2 linked regions of the Homo sapiens genome follow. The protein of the gene in region 2 interacts with the protein of the main gene of each other region in a biochemical or structural test. Each region holds a gene or a part of one and is shown on either strand. Other genes may lie near its edges.

Region 1 (2,627 bases), on a different chromosome or scaffold from region 2:
TGATAATCTGTAGTCCCATCCCATGCCTGGGCAGTGATTTGACGGCCACCAAACCATCTTCCATCGAGAGTCTGAATACAATAATCAGCTTCCTCTGGATCCCGAAAGGACACAGAGGCCACACCATCTGGGTGCCTCTAGAAAGATAAGAAAGAAAAAAAAGGAATGAATGATAAGATTAAAAATAAAACACATACATTTCACAAAGTAGGTAAGTAGTAGTGTTCTCTCTGATACTCTGAAGTAAAAGACTTTATGTATGAAGTCTTTCTTCCATTTTATCCCAGCCAGTCACGTGCAGTCAGCTGCTTCTTTACCTCAATCTTACCTAGCAAGAACCAAGCACAATGTCCTTGGAAATGTTTCTGCTGACATCCCTGTCTAATGAGAAGCAGGACAGTATAATTGTTAAGAGTGTAAACTCTGAAGTCATATTGCCCTGGGATTAAATCCTGGCTCTGTCAGTTACCAAATGAACAACCTTGAGCCAGGTGTTCAATTTCTAAAGTGTTAGCTTCCTCATCTGTAAAATGGGTGTAATAGTGCTAACCTGCCTCAAAGGGTTTTGAGAAGTGAGATAACATGTAAAGTAGCTTGTAATACACAAGCAATAAATGGTGACTCTTAATTATTGGGTGTCAATTCTGGAAGTAAAAAGAGGATGAGAAGAGGAAATATACAGGAGAATATTGTCCCTGATTGTTCCAAATATGGAGGATGAGAATAATTCACAAAGAGGGGAAAATGTGACTAATAGGGAACCAGAGATCTCATACATTTTTCCTGTACCTTCTTTCACCTGATCATGTACTCTAGGGTAATGAAGACGGAAAATAAGCAAGGCATACCAAATCTATCAAATCCTTGGCTTGTAATCCACGTTCATCTCATTATTGCTAATAGATGATTATCACAAGATAGTGGACTACTATATAAAAACATTAATCTAAAATTCAGGGGTATACTAACATCTGAGAAGAACTTATAAGGTGGAGGAATTATTGCTTTAGGATCCATATGTCCAAGCCATGAACTTACATCAAAGAGAAGGAGTTTCCTAATTTGTCCAAACTTCGAACACTCTACTCGAAGGTCTTCTCTGATCTCATTCAGCACCAACGGATCATCCTGAAAAATATGCATGATTAAAATGGGTTTGCTCCCTTCTTTAACTATAAATCCTGAGAATCCAATTTCTTGTTCTGATAAATCAACAAACAGAAAAAGGTTTTGCTTAAGGTTGTGTTTTTCATTCTATACAATTTTTTAAAAACTCAAAATCAAATAAAATTATACTACTACATACACTGCTACTCCTATAGGTTTGCCCTGCTTTAAACAAAGGAAATGGACAAGTATGGCAGGCAGCAGAAGGGGCCTACAGTGGCAGAGCAGGAGAAGATGGTGGAAGTCCTGTGGCGCATATTCAGTCAGACTGCTAATTCCTATGCTCTGCATGGGCATCAACATCACACTGATAAGAGCCCTTTGCTTTGTGTTTTGGATACATTCCTATTTACAGAAATGTTGTAATGGAGAGAGAGAGAGCAATATATCCCTTTTATTGACTAAGTGTCCTAAGATTGATTTTTGTGCTTCCAAGATGCTATTTTAACTCACAGAATAAACATCGTAAGGATTACTGTTCGTCTTGTCTCCTACCACATTGTAACAGAACCATACAAATAAGGAGCTGTTATTAAGCATGCAATAAAATACATTCTTAGCTGTTGCTTTCTTGCAACTATGAGCCTATTAAGAACATTCAAGTACTGCTGTTTCTAGTAGCCTAGAGTTCGGGTGGAAATCTCCCTATAACAACAAAATGATTTAAGATTCCCTCTGGGAATTAACAAATCTCTCTCCAAGTACCAATGCATAAAAAGGGCTCAGGAAAAGCTACATTATCAGCTTGAATTTCAACTATATACAAATATAAATGAAGATATCCTATCTACAAATTTCTATTGAAGGTGACTTATACTTTCTAGGAAACATTTAAGCGCATCTATCTTTCTTACACGCTTTCATTTTTCTCATCAGCTAAAGAGGAACTATAGAGAATTGTGGCTTTCCTCCCATAAGGTTCTTCAAAAAGCAAAAATAAGCTGGCAGGGAGTTACTGAAATCTGATTTAAAATAAAAAATATAAAATCATACTCATTTGCATAAATCTGAGGCTTCTAAAACTACAGTTGGCAGAACTCTGGACTTCCCCACTTATAAAACTCAATTTTGGAGAAGCAGCCAATTTGCTTTATACAAAATGATCAGACCTGAGAAGAATAAGGAGTAGAGAATAAAAGTTATGGCTTTTGACATGTGTGTGTGTGTGTGGGGTTAGCTCCTATTAGAGTGAGTGCTTTCAGAAGGCAGGACCTTTGTTTTATTGAGTTTCAGATACCTCACAGAAAATAGCACAGACTTTTGTACAAAGCCAATATTCAAGAAAATCTTTTTAAGAATTTGATAAACTGTTTCTAATACCTCTCTTTTATTCACCAAGGAAAATCAGGATTATATCAAAAACAAAAAAAAAACTGTGTCAACATGTTTAACAACTTTTAAATTGAAGCGTGATTCCATGGTGGGGGTAGGCATCACCTCCATTTCTACACCAATGTCTC
Region 2 (3,500 bases):
ATCGAGACCATCCTGGCTACAATCTTGCCACTGCACTCTATCCTGGGCAACAAAACGAGATTCTGTCTCAAAAAAAACAAAGCTGGCTGGACATGGTGGCTCACGCCTATAATCCCAGCACTTTGGGAGGCTGAGGCAGGTGGATAACCTCAGGTCAGGAGTTCGAGACCAGCCTGACCAACATGGAGAAACCCCGTTTCAACTAAAAATACAAAATTAGCCGGGTGTAGTGGCACATGCCTGTAATCCCAGCTACTCGGGAGGCTGAGGCAGGCAAATCGCTTGAACCCAGGAGGGGGAGGTTGCGGTTGGCTGAGATTGCACCATTGCACTCAATCCTGGGCAACAAGAGCAAAACTCCAACTCGAAAAAAAAGTTAAAAAAAAAAAAAATAGTGAAACTACTCATTTAAGGATCCATAATAAAAATGTATAATAATATTTTTCAGCCAGGTGCAGTGGCTCACGCCTGTAATCCCAGCACTTGGGAGGCCAAGGTGGGCGAATTACTTGAGCTCAGGAGGTCGAGAGCAGCCTGGGCAACATGGTGAAACCCCATCTCTACAAAAACTAGCTGGGCATGGTGGCGCACACCTATAGTCCCAGCTACTCGGGATGCTGAGGTCAGGGGGATCACTGAGCCCGGAAGGTCAAGGCCGCGGTGAGCCATGATCACACTACTGGACTCCAGCCAGGGCAACAGAATGAGACCCTGTCTCCAAAAAAAAAAAAAAGAATATTTTTCATAACATTTATAGTGATTTTAAAAGCTAGAAATTATCTAGACTTCTTCATGGAGAATTGTTAAAAATACATACATTCACATATATATCATTAAATACTAGCCAGACATTTTTAAAAAGTAGAGAATCCATCAGATGGGAAAATATTTGGGATATAGTAAGCAAATGAAAACAAACCAGAGACAAAATACATGCACACATAGCTATCTATAGAAAAGAAGCCACAAATAACAGTGGTTCATTAGTATACCTGTGCTTCAGTTGTCTATATAACAGGGGGTCCATGGCCTGTTATGAACTAGGCCACACAGCAGGAGTTGAGCAGCAGGTACGAGTGAGTGAAGCTTCATCTGTATTTATAGCCTCTCCCCACCATACATATTGCCACCTGAGCACTGCCTCTTGTCTGATCAGCAGTGGCATTAGATTCTTATAGGAGCACTTGAACCCTGTGGTGAACTGCCCATGCAAGGGATCTAATTTGCTGCTCTTTATGAGAATCTAATGCCTGATGATCTGTCACTGTCTCCCATCACCCCCAGATGGGACCATCTAGTTGCAGGAAAAGCACCTCAAGGTGGCCGGGCACAGTGGCTCATGCCTGTAATCCCACCACTGTGGGAGGCCAAGGCGGGCAGATCACAAGGTCAAGAGATCGAGACCATTCTGGCTAACATGGTGAAACCCTGTCTCTGCTAAAAATACAAAAATTAGCTGTGTGTGGTGGTGCACACCTGTAGTCCCAGCTACTTAGGAGGCTGAGGCAGGAGAATCGCTTGAAACCGGCAGGTGGAGGTTGCAGTGAGCCGAGATTGCGCCACTGCACTCCAGCCTGGCGACAAGAGCAAGATTCCGTCTCAAAAAAAAAGAGATGCTCAGGGCTCCCACTGATTCTACGTTATGGTGAGTTACGTAATTATTTCATTATGTATAACAATGTAACAATAATAGAAATAAAGTGAACAATAAATGTAATGTGCTTGAATCATCCCAAAACCATCTCCAACCCCACCCCCTGTCCATGTAAAAACTGTCTCCCATGAAACCAGTCCCAGGTGCCAAAAAAGGTCTGGGACCATTGGTCTAGAATATATCTGAGAGATATTTTATTCTTGAATTTTTCTGTATTTTCAAATTTTACTGCAACAAATACAAAACTTTCGCCATAAAATTTATGTGTTTTGTTTTTCAGACAGAGTCCTGGCACTGTTGCCTGCAGTGGTGTGATCATGGCTCACTGCAGCCTCAACATCCCATGCTCAAGCAACCCTCCCACCTCAGTCTCCCAAGTAGCTGGGACTAAAGATGTGAGCCAGCATGCCCAGTTGTTTTTTGTTGTTGTTGTTGTTGTTGTTTTTCTTTTTTTGTAGAAATGGGGTCTCACTTTGTTGCCAGAGCTTGTCTCGAACTGGACTCAAGCAATTCTCCTGCCTCAGCCTCCCAAAGTGCTGGGATTACAGGCATGAGCCACCACATCTGGCTTTTTTTTTTCTTTTTTTTAAATATAGAGACAGGGTCTTGCTATGTTGTCCAGGTTGGTCTTAAACTTCTGGCCTAAAGTGATTCTCCCACCTTACCCTCCCAAAGTGCTAGGATTACAGGTATGGTGAGCCACCATACCTGGCCTGATTTTCTTACTGTTAAGAAAAACACAAACACTAAAATATTCTTTTAACAACACCAATCTAAACTTCAATAAATCGAAGTTATAAAATTAAGTTGCATTGAAATACATAAAGATCCAGGCATGCTTGGGAGTAGGGAAAAAAAAAGAAAGGAAAAAAATTAAGAAAAACAGATGTGTAATTAATCTCCTACCTCACTTCTAGTATCAGGAAGGGATTCCTGAGGATGGAGACAAGTATGTGCTACCTTGATGACATGTTCCAATTTTTTGGGCTGCTCCTCCACTTTAGCTGCTAGAAACAAGGCTGCTGGAGCCACAGACTGAATGGAGAGAAAATAAATCATATTTATTATCAATTTATTCATTCATAGAGTAAGGTAGATCTAAAGAGGAGCTAAGTCTCAAATCAAGTTATTTGCTTGCCTCAACTTTGTCACCTCTTTACCCTTTCCCGCCCCCCCGCTTCTACCATCTTCCCCTCTCCTACCCATTAATCCATCTCCACTTCCAAATACCAATTCTTTGACAAACTGTCATTAAAAGCTGTCTATGGGAGAAGCTACTAGATGTAAGCAGACAGTTTTCTATTTAAAGTGAGATTCTTTATTAAGTTTGTATCAAATCACTCAATACATTTTTTAAGGAGTAAACTGAAATGTCCAGAATACGCAAATCCATATAGAGAAAAAGTTTAGTGGTTGCCAGGAGCTGCGGGGAGAGGAGTATAGGAATAACTGCTAATAGGTGAGGAGTTTTCTGGGGTGATGTAAATGTTCTGCAATTAGACTGTGCTGATGGTTGCACAATTTTGCGCATATACTAAAAACCAGTGAACTATATAATTTAAACAAACGAATTTCATTGTACGTGAATTATATCTCAATTACTTATACATATCGAACCTTTCAAAAATACAAAGCATGGCATTATATGCAAGACATTATTTATAGAAAGCATTAAGAGGGAAAAATTGAAGTCAATATAAAAGTAGATAACAAACTTTATAAAAGATTAAAGCAATATGACATAAATGTAGCCTGGTGATCTTGGAAACTTCAGGAAATAGAACTTTTCTTGAATATTAAGAACATTTCAGTGACTCAAAGATAGTAATGCTAAGAGCTGTATTTC

Evidence for each region. Proteins that work in one complex are often made in the same cells at the same time.
Region 1: the proteins of CCNT1 (region 2) and HTATSF1 form a complex in vitro, tested with the Homo sapiens proteins (one study listed by BioGRID).

What each region holds. Positions count from the first base shown.
Region 1 is NC_000023.11:136,507,592-136,510,218, reverse strand, and holds part of HTATSF1 (17S U2 SnRNP complex component HTATSF1), read right to left. Parts: intron 1,129-2,627; coding exon 1,039-1,128; intron 138-1,038; coding exon 1-137. UniProt on the Homo sapiens protein: Component of the 17S U2 SnRNP complex of the spliceosome, a large ribonucleoprotein complex that removes introns from transcribed pre-mRNAs.
Region 2 is NC_000012.12:48,703,208-48,706,707, forward strand, and holds part of CCNT1 (cyclin-T1), read right to left. Parts: intron 2,690-3,500; coding exon 2,561-2,689; intron 1-2,560. UniProt on the Homo sapiens protein: Regulatory subunit of the cyclin-dependent kinase pair (CDK9/cyclin-T1) complex, also called positive transcription elongation factor B (P-TEFb), which facilitates the transition from abortive to productive elongation by phosphorylating the CTD (C-terminal domain) of the large subunit of RNA polymerase II (RNA Pol II).